4 linked regions of the Homo sapiens genome follow. The protein of the gene in region 2 purifies or fractionates together with the protein of the main gene of each other region. This does not show direct contact. Each region holds a gene or a part of one and is shown on either strand. Other genes may lie near its edges.

Region 1 (4,909 bases), on a different chromosome or scaffold from region 2:
AATTAGAAAGGTAAAAGGGTGATTGGAATCCATCAGTTATTTTAATGCCTCACCTAAGCCATTAGTTTTAAAAATCATTCCCTGCCAAACCTAAGATAGTCACTAACAGATGTTAAAATTAAGAAGAGTATTTCTTCTTTTCTTATAGGAAAAATATTTAAAAATAATAAAATAGTCTGAAGGCCTCCACATACTTTGAGAGTTGTATTTTAGCTCTATGTGAAAACCAATCATGTGACCACAGGAATTCTCTTAATTTATTCTTCAGGTGAAGTGCACCGGTTTAGAACCTCTGACGTCTCTCAAGCCACTTTAGCCAGTGTAGCCCCAGTATTTACTGTGGTGAGTATGTACAGTACATTGGAAATCGTACAGAAAGTGCTTCCCATACATAAGTTAACTCGTTGGACTGTTGGCCAAGATACTACTTATTTTGAGCTTTATAATCATCATAGCTACATGTCGTGGCTGTTGTGCCTGGCCAGTGACCTAAGTGCCTGCTAGATTTGCTTAACAATGATCTTGAACCTTTGCTAATGACTGCAGCTCCCCTTTTAATACTAGAACAGGTCAATCACAATTCAGAGCCATAAAGAGGCTTGAACCTATGTTCTGCAAGATAATACGCAGGCAGAAGCATTTTGAAGGCAGCAGAGAGTAGTATTTAAAAATGCATGCTTTGAAAGGTCATGATCTCTAACTTTTCTCTGAAATGGTTCGGGGGTGGGGATGAGGGGGGAAATGAATGAATAAGATAATGTATCACACGTATTTTTAGAGAAAGAAGGCTGTTGGGGCAAAATGTTAACAAAGGTGACTCTAGGTGAAAGCTCTATGGGAATTGGTTGTAATATTCTTGCAACTTCTTTGTAGGCTTTTTTTTTTTTTCCAAAAAAAAAAAAAGTCTTGATAAAAAGGTGTGCCGGCCGGGCGTGGTGGCTCACGCCTGTAATTCCAACACTTTGGGAGGCCGAGGTGGGCAGATCATGAGGTCAGGAGATTGAGACCATCCTGGCTAACACAGTGAAACCCCATCTCTACTAAAAATACAAAAAATTAGCCAGGCCTGGTGGTGGGCGCCTGTAGTCCCAGCTACTTGGGAGGCTGAGGCAGGAGAATGGCATGAACCCAGGAGGCGGAGCTTGCAGTGAGCCTGGATCATGCCACTGCACTCCAGCCTGGCAGACAGAGTGAGACTCCATCTCAAAAAAAAAAAAAAAAAGGTGTGCCTATTCTGAGCCAGACTTCCTAAATTCCAATCTCACTCTGCCTCTTATTGACTAGGTGGCCTTGGACAAGTTACAATAACATCTTTGTGCCTTAGTTTTCTCATCTGAAAACTGAGCATAACCTACCATATAGAATTGTTATGAGGATTAAATTAACTCATATATAGAAAGCCCTTAAACTAGTGCCTCACATATAGTAAGCCTCAAATATATTTCATTAGGATTATTTAGGCTTGTTAACATAAGAGCTTTTCTTTATAAACTATATAAAATTAAATAACCCCCAGAATTGCGTTTAAAAGTTACCACTGTTATTCATTGTTCTGGAAGAGTTGGCCAATTTAGTTAAGAATACAAAATCAGGGCCAGGCACGGTGGCTCACGCCTGTAATCCCAACACTTTGGGAGGCTGAGGTGGGCATATCATTTGAGGTCAGGAGTTTTAGACCAGCCTGACCAACATGGTGAAACCCCGTCTCTACTAAAAAACAAAAAAATTAGCCAGGCGTGGTGGTGCACGCCTGTAGTCCCAGCTACTCAGGAGGCTGAGGCAGGAGAATCGCTTGAACCTGGGAGGTGGAGGTTGCAGTGAGCCAAGATTGCACCACTGCACTCCAGCCTGGGCAACAGAGCAAGACTCTGTCTCAAAAAAAGAATACAAAGTCAAACGTGAAATACTGAAAGTTAGTTCTTTGCAGGTGAAATAATTGCAAAGAACACTTAAGAAATTCATAAAGCTATGGAATCTGAGAAAGAAAAATTTAATTTGTGCTGTTTGAAATAGTTTAGAAAGTGAGCTGGTTACAAAGTAAATATTTTTTTCTTTATAATTTGTATGATTTAAAAAATTTTTTTAAGTTCCATTAAAGAAAAAAAGGGTACATATAAATATTGAGATGCAAAAATATTCAGCATATGTTGCTAATTTGGAAGGAGGGAGACTGCAAAGCAGTATGTATAAGTATGTTTTATTAGGAAAATGTTTGGAAGGATATTCAGTGAAATATTGACATGGTTTTCTCTAAAATTTGTCATTTCAGGTGATTAATATAGTTTTATGTTACGTATATTTATTTTCAAATTTTCTGCAGTGGGTTTATGTATTTGTGAAATATAAGGCTGAAAGCTAGACTATTACACAAATATAAAGCTTTCTTTGATATAAATTTTCCTTTAATGTTCTATGGAACTTATATATTCATATTAATTTTATTTTTGCTGATGAGAAGCAAGATAAAATATATATATTGTGAGTTTTTATTGTGTGATTAACACAGCATGTATATTTCCATGGTAGTAACCCAAGACCTATATTGTACTTAAACCTGTATGTTGGAGTGTCTTTCTGAAATGTGTCTGTCGTAGTAAGTAGTACAGCTCAGCACATAGTGATTCATTAAATGTTTCACAGCTTCAAACTTGACTGTGGATAAACATCACTGAAAGATAGTCCCCTACTTTGCAGGAAATAGGTGCATTTTCTGTATCAAATCCTCTCTTCAAACTATCAGAAGGGGTTCTGTAAATCTTTATTGATTCTGCAACACCCACCAAAGAGACTTTGGCCTCATGTAGACATTTAGATTCACAAGGCGGGCCATACTTGGTCCCAGTCTACTCAGAAGGATAAGGGACAGGAGAAACAACAGGGTAGTGTTAGGTGTTTCCTCTTCAAAAGAAGTCTTTGCAGCCATCCAGGGGCTTCTCTGGTCCTCTGAGTGATCGCTCAGTGACAAGGAGATAAGATTCTCAAAGGTGGATGTGAGATTCATCTTGGCTCGAATCCCCATGCCCCGTAGTGACAGTATCCCTTGTAACCATCGCAGGGGCACAGTGTCCAGGATTCTGGCTGGGAACATGGCCACAAGAGCCACCACAATCAGGAAAGGGCAAAGAGAGCTATTGCTTTTCACCTGATAACTGTAATTTGTTCGTCTTCCCAGTCCAGTGCAGTCTACCAGTCAATGGTCATTTTTACCATAAGGATTGTTACCTAGTAACAACACAACTGATACTCCTTTATCAACTTTCTAGAGGAACCAAGATAGAAAGTTAAACCCAGGTCTGATTTTTCCTATCAAAGGAAAAAAGGATTTTAAAAAAACCCTTAACTCATAACTGGATTTAATCTAAAGAAGGTCAGTAATGGTTTATATTTGCATTTCAACATTTTGGGGATATTACTTACAATACCATAAATTCTTAACTAAATTAGCAATACCATAAGTAGCATTCTAATTTGAAAGAAAATCATAATTTGTTTTATTCTCTATTTTCAGACAAAATTTGACAAACAGGGAAACGTTACTTCTTTTGGTGAGTGATTAGCATTCTAAATCATTTTTTAAACATTTAATGAGTGAATCTGATAGAAATCAAGAAATTGTAGTATTTTGAGTAAAATATTCTTTGCATATACAGGTGTGTTGAAAGAGATCTTTCTTCAGCATTTGTCCATCAGTCTTAATTGGAGCTGGCAATACTCAGACTGTGTGTATTCTCCCAGAATTGTTTTCTTCTAGCAGGAGCCACTTTTTGCTCTAACAGGCTATTGAAGGAATATTTGGGAGAGCAGAGGCTGGTGTAGAACTGGAGCCCAGAGACACACTCTTTTTCTCTTTTGTCTCTCTTGTTGGCGTCCCTTTCACTGCCCTCATTCATTCTCCTGAAGCATGTTTAAGGCAGAGTCACATAATACCACTGACATTGCAGTGGGTGACAAAAGATGAACAGGGCCATGTCACTGCATGGCAGCCACATGGAACTCTGCTGCTGATGGCTCTCTGTGGACAGCTACTTTAAAAAGTGAGACTAGGCATTACTTTACAGTGTGACTTCAGATGTGAGTTTCACATCTCCCTTGAGAATGAATCAGTCTCAGGTAATAAATTCAGCTTTTCTCATTTTTGTATTAGTCTAAGAACAAAGAAAATCAAGCTTATCTGTTCACATATATAAAATACTGAAGATGATGTTGTAGTAAAAATAGAAAATATAGTTGTGTACAGTTTATATTTAAGAGAGATAACCTGTCTCTAGAGCTGGACATTTATAGGTTCTAATGATGCATAGTTGTGGTTTCTGTATTAGTCTCAAGGGTCTTCTAAGTAGTGAGAAAGTTATGAGGTATAGATAAGAAAATCATTAGTTTGACTCTATTTAGCCCGAGTATGTTTTCTAGGTAAAAATGGATATTAAAAGACTTAATTTTAGTTTTTGTTTCTGGTAGTAACCAAAAATTGTCTTGATGGTGGTGGGAGGACTGCTCTGATGGAAAAATCTAAGCCATTTAATGTATTTGGTTTAGCCCTCTCTGTTTATTTCTTTTATAGAAAGGAAGAAAACTGAATTATACCAAGAGTTAGGTCTTCAAGCCAGAGATTTGAGATTTCAGCATGTAATGAGTATCACAGTCAGAAACAATAGGATTATCATGAGAATGGAGGTAAAATATTTTATTTTCATCTATGTTTCTCCAATACAATCTTATAAAAGTTACCTTCTAACTATCTTGATTAGTATCTAGGTTAAAAGTAATTTTGGAATAGAAATAGCTACCTGAAACATAGGATGTTTTATAGCTTAATATGCTATTATGAGTAGAACTCATTTTATATGGATTATATGCACATGTTCAATAGGCATAACACTGCTGTGTTTTAAGTTGGAAAAGCTCTGAC
Region 2 (4,909 bases):
GCTTGAAAATCACTCAGAAAGCTAAACATAAAGGAAAATCAAAGGAATGCCTCTTGGGTTTCAGAAATAATGCATTATTCATTGAGAAGCCAGGAAGGGAATTATTCTCAGGATGGAAAATGCTTGGATGGAAAATGCATGGTCCCATTATGCCATTTACTTGGAAACTAAAAACACACAGTCCCTTCATGAATGGAACAGCATTCTTTCAAGTTTCCTTTCCCCTTCCTTTTATCAAAGCTCTAATTGAGTTCAAATTCAGAACTTGATTAGACACAAGGAACATGCATCTCAATAGCTAGATTTTAAATAAAATGATCTTTTTCTCCTTCTGGGCAACAGAAGGGAATATCTTTATTCTCTCATACTTAAGCTGCTTGACTTTGCTCAAAAGTGAGAGAATTCAAACACTGTCATTTGTTGTTTATAATTTCTTCCCATGTTAAAATTTAAAAGGTGTAAGATCTTTCCAGAAAGAGCCCATAAGCCTTACTTTTAGACCAAGAAATGCAAGGAACCCTGCTAGACTGAAGGCAGGAAGTGGGAAACACCACAGCCTGACACAGGAGCTTCTATGTATGGATGCTTCATTGAGGAACCTGGATTCCTCTCCTTTATCTTCTTCACTGAAAGGAACTGGTTTTTGTACTAGGATTAAGCCCAACCACACAGTCCCAACACTCTGTGTTTGGATCTTCAAGACTCAATCCAATAATTTCAGTGACTCACAGTACAGGCCTCCGAAATCAACATCTAAAACCAATCATATGGAAATTCTGCGCCCCCCTCCCCCTCCTTTCTATTTCACAGAGGCCTCAAGGATCAAACTGACCAAAAGATGAGGATGCACTACAGAAGACGAAAATGGGGGCTGGAAAATTGTAAGGGATGAGGTTCCTAACCCACAATGAATGGATATTCTGAAATAAATTTTGCTCAAATTAAGGATTTCCCCTTGAGCTTCTGAAAACAATAATAAACCACACCTAAACCCCTTTAATAGTAAGGAGCTAACCATAATTCAATCAGGTTACAGGACTTGAGATGTGCATTGTGGACCCCATCAACATGTAATCTACAGAGAGTTCAGCGTACACCTGAAAGGTTGATAAGAGTTAAAACACCTCCATCTCAGCACCTCTGAAGTGGAGAAATAATAGCTCCCTGCCTCCTCCACATGGCACAGTGAGGATCAAACTGAGATACAACTTGTAAAAGCCCTCTATAAACTGTGCATCTACCTGACCACCATGACTTACGTGAGTGGCACGCTGGCGTTGCAGAGCCCTAGGATAGATTCTCCAAGGGCAGAATGTGAAAATGTGTTTTGGACAAGAAAGAGCTGGCATGTCAAAAGGCTCTGAGACAATACTATCCTGATTATAAAGAGATTCCTAGGACTTGCAGTTGGGTATGAAGAAGATAACAAGAGGGAATAGAGAGACAACATAGGGAAGCAAATCATTTTGGAGGTTCTCATGGGTCAATGCCATCACCTACCAAGATGGGGAATGAAATATAGTACTCAGTAGTCATAGTGCTTTGAGTAGTTTGTATATTTCCAGCACATTTCTGATAGAAGAATCCCACAAACCCAGGCACAACACCGATGAATGGTATGCAACAGTATGAAAGTAAGAGGAAGGGCCCGGTGCGGGAGCTCACGCCTGTAATCCTAGCACTTTGGGAGGCCGAGGTGGGTGGATCACCTGAGGTCAGGAGTTTGAGACCAGCCTGGCCAACAACGGTGAAACCGCATCTCTACTAAAAATACAAAAATTAGCCAGGCGTGGTGGCGCACACCTGTGGTCCCAGCTACTTGGGAGGCTGAGGCAGGAGAATCACTTGAACCCAGGAGGCAGAGGTTGCAGTGAGCCAAGCTCACACCACCACACTCCAGCCTGAGTGACAGAGCAAGACTCCATCTCAAAAAAAAAAAAAAAAAAAAAAAAGGATGAAGAAGTGTGGTTATTTATTGTAACATCAGAAACAGAAGTAGCAGAAGATAAGATGTCCAAGGTCACAAAGGTCTTGTATATCTGGCTATTTGAAATTTGTCCAGTCCAGCATACATTCTCAACCCTAGCCACACATTACAATAGTCTGCAGAGCTTCTTTAAAAAATAAAGACCTTCACCCACACCTCCCACTATGGGATTGTAATCTCATTGGCCTTACTGGTCAGATTTTCATTTAAGACACAACATTGGTGACAGAGTGGAAGAAGAAAATAAAGTAAAGGCAAAACTATTTCCAAATTCCAGAAGAGAGATAATGAAAGCCAGAATCAGGACAGCAGCACTGGGAAGAGATATAGAAGGACTGGAGAAGTATTTAGGAGACGGACTCCATGAGATGGATGAGACAGAGAAGTCTAGAATGACTTCTAAATTTTCACTTTGGTTGAAGGAGGAAACACAGGAGAAAATGTTTACTGGTGTTTTGTAAGGGAGGTAAGGAGAAGAAGACAGCTGATGAGCTGGGTTCAGTATGTGTTTAGTTTGAGGTACCTGCAAGACATCTAATGGAAATGCCTTAATTACATCTAAATAGGCTCATGGCAATTTGTGTCATGGGAAACTGTCTCACAGCACGCTGAACAAAAGTGGTTATATTGTCCCCTGATTTGCCAATATTACAAGTAACATGGGGTGGAGGATATTCAAAACAGATCCGTGGGTTGTTCTTCCTTGAACAAGCTTTATTCCTCCCTGATGCATCTGTCAAAGCAATCTGTGAGAACCCCAATGCCCACAAAGATGGAGGGAGAGGTGCTGGAATGCAGACGCAAAAGGCAGGGAGGAATGAGGCTGTTTTGGAACAACAGGTCACAGCTGCAGATCGAGATCATATTACCACACCTTCCCTCAAATCTATCCAACCTCATCAGCTGAATAATGCTTACCATCTGGTCTCACAATTACAGTCTTTTTTTCTAGAATGACTTTTTCCTAACTAGTTGAACTTTGCTTACATATGGAATGCAAGAACCAAAGTTAAAGAGGAAAACAGTCCTTGCCAGAGAAGACCTCTAGAGACAGTGTCCAAGATTTTTGATGAAAAACACAGAAAGCGTTTCTAGTCTGGCTGGCAAAGTTGTGTTTTTACAAAAGAACCAGACATCCCATAGATCCAAAACAAGTCAAGGTAAATCAATTCTACAACAGCACTGTGCCCAAGGTGGCCTCACTCTTCTTGTTTTTCAAATGAGGATCCCAGAAACAGTCCCATCTCAGAGACCTGCGGTGGGAATCAAGGGAGAAAATAAATGAGTGCCTAAGTTGCTTTTTCTGTTTTCCCTAAATTGTTTATTCCCTCAGGTCAGGCAGCGTGGTATCCCAGAATCTAATCAAATTTTAGTTCATCTCTGTAGTTACGTTGTGATTTCTGCTATTAAGGTACACACATACTACATAGTTAGCTAGGAAATCCTTCAATGCTATGTATCTTAACAGAGCCTATGTCAGAAAAAGTGGCCACAGATGCAAAGCTTATTCTTCCCCAGTCTTGCAGCTAAGGGTTCATTATAATGGGGGTGTATGTGGATGGCTTTTTGAGATTAACGCTTTTTCTAAAAGAATAACCCAGATTAATTAAAAAATCTTTTTTCCTGACTATTGAAACTATATAATTTACCTGAGGTATCTCCACAGTATTATTGTTCTATATTATTTCCACCCTGATACCAATTTTACTCCATCTAGTTTGGTGTTCAACACTGCCATTCCTTCCTGGTCACAGCACATGTTGCATACATTTAAAGTTTCATGATTTCATTTATTGTATGATGTGCTCTAGTATTTTCATTACTCACTCTTGAGAGCAACATTTATCTTTTAGAGAAGGATAATAACACCATACAGAGCTCTAAAGCAGAGCAGAATACTCATTATGTTCTCTTTTTAACATTCCTGGGTGACAGTTTTAGCTTCATTAGACTCTCCTGATCACCACAATGCTACTTTCCTGTGCCCAAGAGAATGCCAAAGCTGCCTTCCCTCTGGTGTACTCTCCTTAACATTAAGTAGTGTGTATTGCGCACGTACAAGTTCCATACCCTACAACAGACTCTAACTCTCATCCTGCAACTGTACCTTGGAAAGTCCACATTGAAATGACTTGAATGCTAGTGCCATTCTTACAGACCATTCAGGTGCTGAAAAGCCAGGTAAAACCACTTCTCCACTGCTACCATCCTAGCCAAGTGAGCAATACCTTTTATCTGCCAATTGCAACAGGCTCTTAACCAATTCCTCTTCCTCCACACTGCTTCCCTAAAGTCCAGCTTGTACAAAACAAGCATAAATCAATTTGCACTAAGTCACTCTCCTGCTTAAAACCCTCCAAAGTCTTCCTACTTGAAATCCTTACTGCTATCCATAATGCCCTACACATGACTGGCCCTGCTAGTTTCTTGGATCTCATCTCTTTCCACTCGCTCCTCATTTACGAGGTTCCAGTCACACAGACCAAGCCCATTTCTGTCTCAGGATCTTTGCATTTATAGATCCATCTGCTGGGATTACTCTCTCTGCAGCTTTTTATGTCTATTTACTTATTAAATGTCGCTTTCTTAAAAAGGCTATCCTTGGTTATCCTAGCCAGAGCAACAGCCCACCACCATCACCACATTCTCCCATTTTATTATCATCACATGCTGATATACCCAAATGATATATCCTTTATTTATACCCAAAATTATTGTATTTATTGGTTTACATGTTTATTGTTTTATCTTCCCTCAACAAGAATATTAACTTCATGAAGGAAGGAATGCTACCTCTTTCATGTCTGTATCTCTGGAATCTAGAATATTGCCTGGCGACAGCAGACACTCAGTATCTTCCATTGGATGAATTAGCAAGTCATAGCTAAGCGCCTAGTACATATATCCCAAACAAGAAAAATT
Region 3 (4,909 bases), on a different chromosome or scaffold from region 2:
GTACAGTGGCGCGATCTTGGCTCACTGCAACTTCCACTTCTCAGGTTCAAGCGATTCTCCTGCCTCAGCCTCCTGAGGAGCTGGGACTACAGGCGTGTGCCACCACCTGCTGCTAATTTTTTGTATTTTTAGTAGACACAAGATTTCACCATGTAGACCAGGCTGGTCTCAAACTCCTGACCTCAAGTGATCTGCCCATCTCAGCCTCCCAAAGTGCTGGGATTAAAAGCATGAGCCACCTAGCCCAGCCTGGACTTTATTCGAATTGTAATGGGAAACCACTGAAGGGTCCTGATATGGTTTGGCTGTCTCCCCACCCAAAATCTCATCTTGAATTGTAGTAATCCCCATGTGTCAAGGGAGGGACCAGGTGAAGTTAACTGAACCATGGGTGTGGTTTCCCCCATACTGTTCTAGTGACAGTGAGTTCTCACAAGATCTGATGGTTTTATAAGGAGATTACCCCTTCATTCGGCTCTCATTCTCTTTCCTGCCACCATGTGAAGGAGGATGTGTTTACTTCCCCTTCTGCCATGATTTTATAAGTTACCTAAGGCCTCCCCAGCCCTGCAGAACTGTGAGTCAATTAAACCTCTTTCCTTTATTAATTACCTAGTCTCAGGTATTTCTTCATAGCAGCAGCACGAGAACAGACTAATACAGCTTACATGCTTAGGAGGTACATTTACATGCTTACAAGCATGTAAATGATGTCATCTGAACTATGCTTCAGAAAGATAACTCTGGCTGCTGTGGAGCCAGGATTTTAGTGGGGCAAGAAGACAAACAGGGAAATCAATAATGAAGCTGCTGCAATAATCCAAACACCTGGACCAGGGTGGGAGTAGAAGAGATGGCTAGAAATGGTCAGCTGCTGAGTGTATTTTGGAAGCAGAGGTGACAGGACTCGCTAATAGACTGGATGTGGGGCAAAGGAGAAGAATTCAGGATGACCCTCAAGTATATGACATGAGCAAAATGGGGACTTTCTTGTTGAGTTTTTTTTTTTTTTTTTTTTTGAGACGGAGTCTTGCTCTGTTGCCCAGGCTGGAGTGCAGTGGCACGGTCTCAGCTTACTGCAACCTCCACCTCCCAAGTTCAAGCAATCCTCCTGCCTCAGCCCCCCTAGTAGCTGGGATTACAGGCACACACCACCATGCCCGGCTAATTTTTTTTTTTTTTTTTTTTTTTTTGAGACGAAGTCTCCCGCCCAGCCTGGAGTGCAGTGGCACGATCTGCAAGCTCTGCCTCCCGGGTTCACGCCATTCTCCTGCCTCAGCCTCCTGAGTAGCTGGGACTACAGGCACCTGCCACCAAGCCCGGCTAATTTTTTTTGTATTTTTTTAGTAGAGACGGGGTTTCACTGTGTTAGCCAGAATGGTCTCCATCATCTCCTGACCTCGTGATCCACCCGCCTCAGCCTCCCAAAGTGCTGGGATTACAGGCGTAAGCCACCGCGGCCGGCCTTTTTTTTTTTGAGATGGAGTCTCACTCTGTCGCCAGGCTGGAGAGCAGTGGCCCATCTCGGCTCACTGCCACCTCTGCCTCCCAGGTTCAAGCGATTCTCCTGCCTCAGCCTTCTGAGTAGCTGGGACGACGCCACCACACCCAACTAATTTTTTTATTTTTAGTAGAGACAGAGTTTCACCATGTTGGCCAGGATGGTCTCGATCTCTTGACCTCGTGATCTGCCCACCTCGGCCTCCCAAAGTGCTGGGATTACAGGCATGAGCCACCGCGCCTGGCCTCTAATTCTTGTATTTTTAGTAGAGATGGGGTTTTGCCATGTTAGCCAGGCTGGTCTCAAACTCCTGATCTCAGGTGATTTACCCACCTTGGCCTCCCAAAGTGCTGGGATTACAGACATGAGCCACCACGCCTGGCCTAGGACACTACTTTTTTTTTTTTTTTTTTTTTTTTTTGAGACAAAGTTTGGCTCTTGTTGCCCAGGCTGGAGTGCAATGACACGATCTCGGCTCACCGAAACCTCCGCCTCCTGGGTTCAAGCAATTATCCTGCCTTAGCCTCCCGAGTAGCTGGGATTACAGGCATGCGCCACCACGCCCAGCTAATTTTGTATTTTTTTTAGTAGAGACAACAGGGTTTCTCCATGTTGGTCAGGCTGGTGTCGAACTCCCAACCTCAAGTGATCCGTCCGCCTTGGCCTCCCAAAGTGCTGGGATTACAGGTGTGAGCCACCACGCAGGCCTAGGACACCAACTTTAGCAGAGTTGCCTGGAAGACATGAAATGGCAGAAACTTCTAAAAAACAAACAAACCCCATCTATTTGGACACAGAGCAGAGATGTGCCTGTGACTTAGCATGGACCTGGCCACATCCATATCAAAAATATTCACTAGTTAGTATGTTAACATTTATATTAATGAAACAAAATTCATTTATGTCTCTTAACCTTTCTTCTACCCACCCACCCCCACCTTCCAAGAAAGATTAGTAACAAAAAAGAAACTACAATGTAACAATCATCTCCAAGACTTTTTTTTTTTTTTTTTTTTTTTTTTGAGACAGAGTCTCATCTCACTCTGTTGCCCAGGCTGGAGTACAATGGCACGATCAGAGACTAGGTTTCACCATGTTGGCCAACCTGGTCTCGAACTCCTGACCTCAGGTGATCCACCCACCTCGGCCTCCCAAATTGCTGGGATTATAGGCGTGAGCCACCTCACCCAGCCAAGACCTCATTTTTATAAACAATGAAGATTTATGCTGTTACCTTGACCTCCTGCCAGTAGGGTCCCCCGCGGGTGAACATGAAGTAACTATACATCTGATTCGTCCTCTGGAAGAAATCTGTGTCCTCCTTGATATTCACCATCCAAGGCCGACCATCCCCACGTACACGGAGATACAGAGTATTGAACTGGGACCAATCGTAAGACATCTTCCTCTCAAAAGCACCCTAAGATATTGAAAGTAAAGTTCATTGTACCTCATTCTCCATTATTAGCAAAATGTGAGTCATCACCAAGTCAGCATCATCAACAGGATGCACTAACCATTTTTCTGACTTTCTGCCCCATAAGAAGGCACATAAACCCAGTGATTATTATTTTAGCACAAAATACTGACATAGTTATATGTTTCTAAGGTAATGTTCAACACACAACTGGCCCAGGACAGTGTTTACATGGGGTAGGCACTCACCTGTGTTCAATGAATGGAAATGAATGTATTTCCTTTACCTGGTCGTATGGAGCAATGACTTTTTCTTTTCTTTTCTTTTCTTTTCTTTTTTTTTTTTTGAGACGGAGTCTTGCTCTGTCACCCAGGCTGGAGTGCAGTGGTGCAATCTCAGCTCACTGCAAGCTCTGCCTCCTGGGTTCACACCATTCTCCTGCCTCAGCCTCCCGAATAGCTGGTACTATAGGCGCCCAAAACCACACCCGGCTAATTTTTTTGTATTTTTAGTAGAGACGGGGTTTCACCGTGTTAGCCAGGATGGTCTCGATCTCCTGACCTGGTGATCCGCCCACCTTGGCCACCCAAAGTGTGGGGATTACAGGCATGAGCCACTGCGCCCGGCCTTTTTTTTTTTTTTTTTTTTTTGAGACAAAGTTTCGCTCTTGTTGCCCAGACTGGAGTGCAATGGCACGATCTCAGCTCACTGCAACCTCTGCCTCCAGAGTTCAAGCAATTCTCCTGCCTCAGCCTCCCAAGTACCTGGAATTACAGGCATGCACCACCATGTCCAGCACTCTGGGAGGCCAAGGGTGGGGTGGATCACCTGAGGTCAGGAGTTCAAGACCAGCCTGGCCAACATGGTGAAACCCTGTCTCTACTAAAAATACAAAAATTAGCTGGGCGTGGTGGTGTGCACCAGTAGTCCCAGCTACTCAGGAGGCTGAGGCAGGAGAATCGCTTGAACCTGGAGGGCGGAAGTTGCAGTGAGCCGAGATCACGCCACTGCACTCTAGCCTGGGCGACAGAGCAAGACTCCGTTTCAAAAAAAAAAAAAGAAAGCCACAGGCTAACCCTACATCCACTCTACAAAACCCCTGGTCATTACAGAGGTTGTGGTCTTTTTTAGAGGAGATGAAAATCTCTCCAAAAATCTTTCAAATGTCTAACCTCTCAGGATTCCTGAAACATAACAATGCTCGTTCCTGGCCCAAAGCAATGCGCAGAAACAAGTTAACTCCTCCTCCTCAGAAACCACTTCCCCCTTGTGCTTCCACTTCACACTTGTGCCAATAGTTACTTATCCCCAGACACAGGTGAGGTGCCAAATATAACATGCCAGGTGTTTTCATTTACAGAAACAAAAGCTATCTTCTATAGTTTATGCTACAATGAAGTTCACCCCTGTTTACTAGAAAACGATGGCTCCTGGGCCTCACCTACCCTTGGAATCCTGGATATCATTGCACAGTACCCACTTCGGGTAGACTCCCCGTCCTGAGGCGCCTCAGAGCTCAGAGTTCCATATAGCAGTGCACTTTGGTTATTCTTGCCCATTTTCAAAAACACTTCACTTCTGCCTCCAATCGTCTTATCAGAAGTCACTGTCCACTTATCCAAATCTTCTTTCCCCCGGAATTGCCAGACAACCTTGGCTTGTTCCAGCAAGACCTCATGCAGAGGGTGGCCTTCCGGTCCTCTCCAATGATCCACAATTTCATCCTTCAAAAGCCTAAAATGGTATATTGCTTCATCTCTAATTGCTTTATCGAAACTAACATCAGGCTTCTCCTCAGAAGAAGTTATATCCAAAGCAACTTCTTTCTGGTGATCTCCTTGCAAATCCCCTTCAGTCTTCCTCTGTGAGGAGGCTTTGCCAGGAGAAGCCACTGGTTTCTGAAGACTACTGGAATACTCTGCAAAGCGAATACCCAAAAATGGATACAAGGCAGAAGTTGGCTTAGAGAATTTTCTGAGAAAATAAGTACC
Region 4 (4,909 bases), on a different chromosome or scaffold from region 2:
TATAAACCTGAGAGAGACAGCAAATGAGCAGCCTGTAGTTTTATTATCTTTAGTAGTTACTCAGCCCTTGGCCTGCAGATACAGCTCCTGTGAATCCCCTTTCTGTGTTCTATTAGGTTTACATTAAAATGGCAAAAACCGCGATTACTTTTGCACCAACCAAATACTTCCATATCCAACTACTGCTAGACCCTTGTGTGTGTGTGTGTGTACGCTTATCCACACACACACACACACGTTACTGTACAGTCTGTGAGGAGTAAAATCCTCAGTGCTTAGGATCCCAGAGTCAGTTATTTTGTTTCGTCAGAAAGACTGTCCTGGCTGCCACCTACATGGTTATTATGTGAGTTCTGCCATGATTCCAGGGATCTGCTCAGCTCTGTGGCATGGGCCCAGTTTACTCATAAAGCATCTTGTGACCAAGCACAGTGGCTCATGCCTGTAATCCCAACACTTTGAGAGGCCAAGGCGGGCAGATCACTTGAGGTCAGGAGTTCAAGACCAGCCTGGCCAACATGGTGAAGCCCTGTCTGTACTACAAATATAAAAATTAGCTGGATGTGGTGGTGCACTCCTGTAATCCCAGCTACTCAGGAGGCTGAGGCAGGAGAATCGCTGGAACCCAGGAGGCGGAGGTTGCAGTGAGCGAAGATCACGCCACTACACTCCAGTCTGGGTGACAGAGCAAGACTCCGTCTCAAAAAAAAAGACCTCTTGTGACTGCTGTCTTTGCTTTCCTTCCTCCATCTGAGGCTGTCATAGCAGATGCCGCCCTCCATCAGGCCCCTTGTCCCCCTCCCTTTGGCCGTCACTTCTTGTCTGACATCTTTTGTGAAGGTTTACCCTGTCTTTTTTCCATTTGCTTGTGATGTTTATATTCACACATTCCGCTCTTCCCCTGTCCCCTGTCTAGGATTCTCCACAGTCACATACTCATTTTTCACAACTTCCTTGCCTCCCTCCCCAACCCCATCATGTCAGTGTGATTTTAGATTACACTCCATATATAGTTTTATATGCAGCATTTTTTCACATAGAAATTTACTGTGAACGTTCTCCTTTTTATTAACTATCCTTCCAAAACACACTTTTAAGTTTTTCTTGTGTGGAGTGACTATTACTGAGCCAACCCCTACTGAACATTTGGTTTATTTCCTAATTTTTTACTCTTAAACACTGACCTTTTTTTTTTTTTTGGAGACAGAGTCTTGCTCAGTCTCCCAGGCTGGAGTGCAGTGGCGTGATTTCGGCTTACTGCAAGCTCCGCCTCCCGGGTTCACTCCATTCTCCTGCCTCAGCCTCCCGAGTAGCTGGGACTACAGGCGCCCGCCACCACACCCGGCTAATTTTATTTTGTGTTTTGAGTAGAGACGGGGTTTCACCATGTTAGCCAGGATGGTCTCAATCTCCTGACCTCGTGATCCACCTGCCTCGGCCTCCCGGAGTGCTGGGGTTACAGGCGTGAGCCACCGTGCCCAGCCAACACTGACCATTTTTTTAAAAGTTTTCAGCTGGGCAAGGTGGCTCGCACCTGTAGTCGCACCACTTTGGGAGGCCGAGGTGGGTGGATCATTTGAGGTCAGGAATTCAAGACCAGCCTGGCCAACATGGTGAAACTCTATCTCTATTAAAAATACAAAAAAAATTAGCTGGGTGTGGTTACGCATGCCTGTAATCCCAGCTACTAGGGAGGCTGAGGCAGGAGAATCGCTTGAACCTAGGAGACTGAGGTTGCAGTGAGCTGAGATCGCACCACTGCACTCTAGCCTGGGCGGCAGAGTGAGACTGTCTCAAAAAAAAAAAAAAAAGTTTTCTTGTATACAAATTTTTCTTTGCATCTTAGATTATTTCCTTAGGATAAACTCCTAGAAAGGGAATTACCTGGACCAAAGGATATGAGAACATTTGTAACACTCTTGATACAAATTGTCAAAATGACCTCCAGAAAGATGATATGGTGTCTTTTTCAAAGGAAAAGTTAAAGTGCTTTTTAAGATTTAGAAGGTATTATCTTTTTGCTTTTCACAGGGGACAGTCAAAACTTCACAGGGGGGAAATCAAGTTAAATTCAGAGCTGGATTTAGATGATGCCATTCTAGAGAAGTTTGCTTTCTCCAATGCTCTATGCCTTTCTGGTAAGTTACTACTGCTTATGGGATAGGGTACTACAGTTGTCATTTCACTGAGGGAAGTTTAAATAGTCACGATTTTGGTATATTTTCAGAATACTCAACAAAGCCTTAGCATTCCTTTTCCTTTTTTTCCCTCCATCAGAAAAAATATCTAGTATAAAAGATAGTACTGTGCTGAAGTTACTCATTCCTTATTAATTGTATTAATAAAGCTTAACCTCTCCAAAAGTATTTTTTAGATGATGATTATATTAGCCTTTGTTTTTTTCTCTTCTCTCTATGCGATTGTTATTCTTAGATAGTCTCTAATCCAGACAGAGAAGCCCAGCCTTGTGTGACTGGGCACAGGTCCCAGTGTAGAAAAACATACTCTAGTGTTCCATAGGAATGGGACCCAGAGTCACAGTGGCTATAAGTTTGTTCTGAAAGATCCACATCCCGAATAAAACTATACAAGTTCTTTAAGAATTTCTTTTGCCAGCAGTCTACCTTAGGTGGCTGCTGCAGCGTCCTGTCCATCCCACTCTGAGGGGCTTCGGAGATTTCTGAGGTTTACTCTTAGTCCTGAGGAGTGAAGGGGAGGCCAGGAAAGTCTTAGTCGCGCCCTATCTGCAGAGCTACCCATGGTATCAAGGTGTACCCTACCCTCCTCAGTTTCCAAGATGTAATACTAGAAAATCAAGAGTTCTACTAAATGTAGCTTTGGTCTTCCAATAGGGCATGGAAAGCGATTCAGTTTCCTCTATCCACTTTAATTCTGTCCTTTATGATAATTAACTATTCTTAAATTATATTTTCAAGGTTTTAGTACTTTTTCTTAAACTATTACTGAAATAGTAGTGAAGATGCTGTGCAATTATGTATTTTATATACATGTGAATATGATGATAAAGAAATGTTCCATTATTAATTTTTTTCCCAGTAAAACTGGCAATTTGGGAAGCATCACTGGATAAATTTATTGAATCTATTCAGTCAATTCCTGAGGTAATTATATCAATTTTATGCTTATTCAAGGATTGATTTTTATATGTAAAAAATATGAATTTCCCAATATAACAATATATAGCTATCCATCAGTATCCATGGGAGATTTGTTCCAAGACCCCACTGGATACCAGAATCTACCAGTGTCCAAATCCCTGATATAAAATGGTATATATTTGCATATAACCTATGCATATCCTCATGTATACTTTCAACCATCTCTAGATTACCTAAAATACCTAATATAATGTAAATACTATGTAAATAGTTGTTATACTGTATTATTTAGGAAATAATAACAAGAAAAAACAGTTTGTACATGTTCGGTACAGATGCAACCATTCTTTTTTCTCAAAATACTGTCAATTTGCAGTTGGTTGAATCTGCAGTTGCAGAACTTATAGAGGGCCGATTGTTTAGGAGTACAACAACATTATTACAAACAATAAGAAAACTACAGTAAACTTAAGAACTCCCAGTTACATATAAAATGACAAATTAAGAAACTTCATATTGATTACTTTTTACTTTTTAAAACTTCAAATTGTTTCCTCTGTTGGTGCAGTATTTTTTTTTTAATATTAATATAATTGAAATGGGGTCTGGCCATGTTGCCCAGGCTGGTCTTGAACTCCTGGGCTCAAGCGATCCTCCTGCCTCGGCCTCCCAAAGTTCTAGCATTACAGGCCACGAGCCACCATGCCCGTCAGTTGCAGTATTTTTAATGTAACTGAATTAAAGAAAAAAGTGAAATGTTTCTCTCTGAGAATGGAAATTATGACCACTTTTCCTGATTTAAGAAAGTGTTTTGCTAAATTATGAGAAAAATAGTGGTATGAAAAATACATATAAAGTTATATTGAAATTTCAGTATACATTAAAAATCATCATATTGTAATTAACTGTGTCTTTATTGTGAAAGAGTAATCTAATTATACTTCGGAAAGGAGGCCCTGCTTTTCTACTAAGAGATTAGGAATGTATATATCATTGAAAATGCTGATGAGAAGGGAAATGAAAAAAGAGAATATACAATTTCTACCTAATAAAATTATGAAATTTCAAGGTGAGTTAAGACATTAATCTGGGAGACAGCCATCCTAAAAAATATTTACATAGGATCCAAATTATGCCACTTCAGATTTTGCCCTGTTGACCTAATGCTTATTAGAAAGAGAGATACATGGTTTTTTGGTTTTTCCGATTCCCTCTCAACTAGGCTTTAAAAGCTGGGAAGAAAGTGAAACTATCTCATGAAGAAGTTATGCAGAAAATCGGTGAACTCTTTGCTCTAAGGTAAAAGTTTTCTCTCTAAATAAAATATTTCATATATTTAACAATCTCAAGAAAACATTCCCATAGTTCTGTGGTGAAGAGCAAACATTTACACGTTTATGGGAACTGTAGCTGTTTTCATTTCATTGATTATAAGCAGGGAGAACTCTTACCCATTAGAAGTAGTTGGGCTGTGTTAAGACTGTACTGAAAGAAATCACGCATGTGCAAAAGAGATCACGATTCATCTACATTAAACCCACATTAAGGAGCACAGTAGGTGTTCTTTGAAGGTAGAAAGACATATTCCTGAATTTGGTTAATGGGAATTCTCTGTAAAAATATATCACTGCATCATAATGCTAAATAGGCTTAATTGCTACAGAAAAGTTTCTTTGAATCTGAGACACCAAGATGCCACTGGAGAGAAAAACTGCTGCCAGTTAAACTATGACAATACTTTTTTTATCAGAGGATTAAAATTTTACACTTACTGAAATATCTTTTAATCT

The links.
Region 1: the proteins of LPAR1 (region 2) and MRS2 purify together in Homo sapiens (affinity purification with mass spectrometry; 3 studies listed by BioGRID and IntAct, with this or other methods). This does not show direct contact.
Region 3: the proteins of LPAR1 (region 2) and NDUFAF1 purify together in Homo sapiens (affinity purification with mass spectrometry; 4 studies listed by BioGRID and IntAct, with this or other methods). This does not show direct contact.
Region 4: the proteins of LPAR1 (region 2) and RMND1 purify together in Homo sapiens (affinity purification with mass spectrometry; 3 studies listed by BioGRID and IntAct, with this or other methods). This does not show direct contact.

Annotation. Positions count from the first base shown.
Region 1 is NC_000006.12:24,404,900-24,409,808, forward strand, and holds part of MRS2 (magnesium transporter MRS2 homolog, mitochondrial isoform b precursor), read left to right. Parts: intron 1-268; coding exon 269-342; intron 343-3,508; coding exon 3,509-3,545; intron 3,546-4,561; coding exon 4,562-4,674; intron 4,675-4,909. UniProt on the Homo sapiens protein: Magnesium transporter that mediates the influx of magnesium into the mitochondrial matrix and regulates magnesium metabolism. Also permeable to calcium, sodium and potassium ions.
Region 2 is NC_000009.12:110,877,490-110,882,398, forward strand, and holds part of LPAR1 (lysophosphatidic acid receptor 1), read right to left. Parts: intron 1-4,909.
Region 3 is NC_000015.10:41,392,124-41,397,032, forward strand, and holds part of NDUFAF1 (complex I intermediate-associated protein 30, mitochondrial precursor), read right to left. Parts: coding exon 4,364-4,909; intron 2,922-4,363; coding exon 2,736-2,921; intron 2,236-2,735; exon of another isoform or gene 1,982-2,235; intron 1-1,981. UniProt on the Homo sapiens protein: As part of the MCIA complex, involved in the assembly of the mitochondrial complex I.
Region 4 is NC_000006.12:151,420,754-151,425,662, reverse strand, and holds part of RMND1 (required for meiotic nuclear division protein 1 homolog), read left to right. Parts: intron 1-2,031; coding exon 2,032-2,138; intron 2,139-3,057; coding exon 3,058-3,122; intron 3,123-4,341; coding exon 4,342-4,418; intron 4,419-4,909. UniProt on the Homo sapiens protein: Required for mitochondrial translation, possibly by coordinating the assembly or maintenance of the mitochondrial ribosome.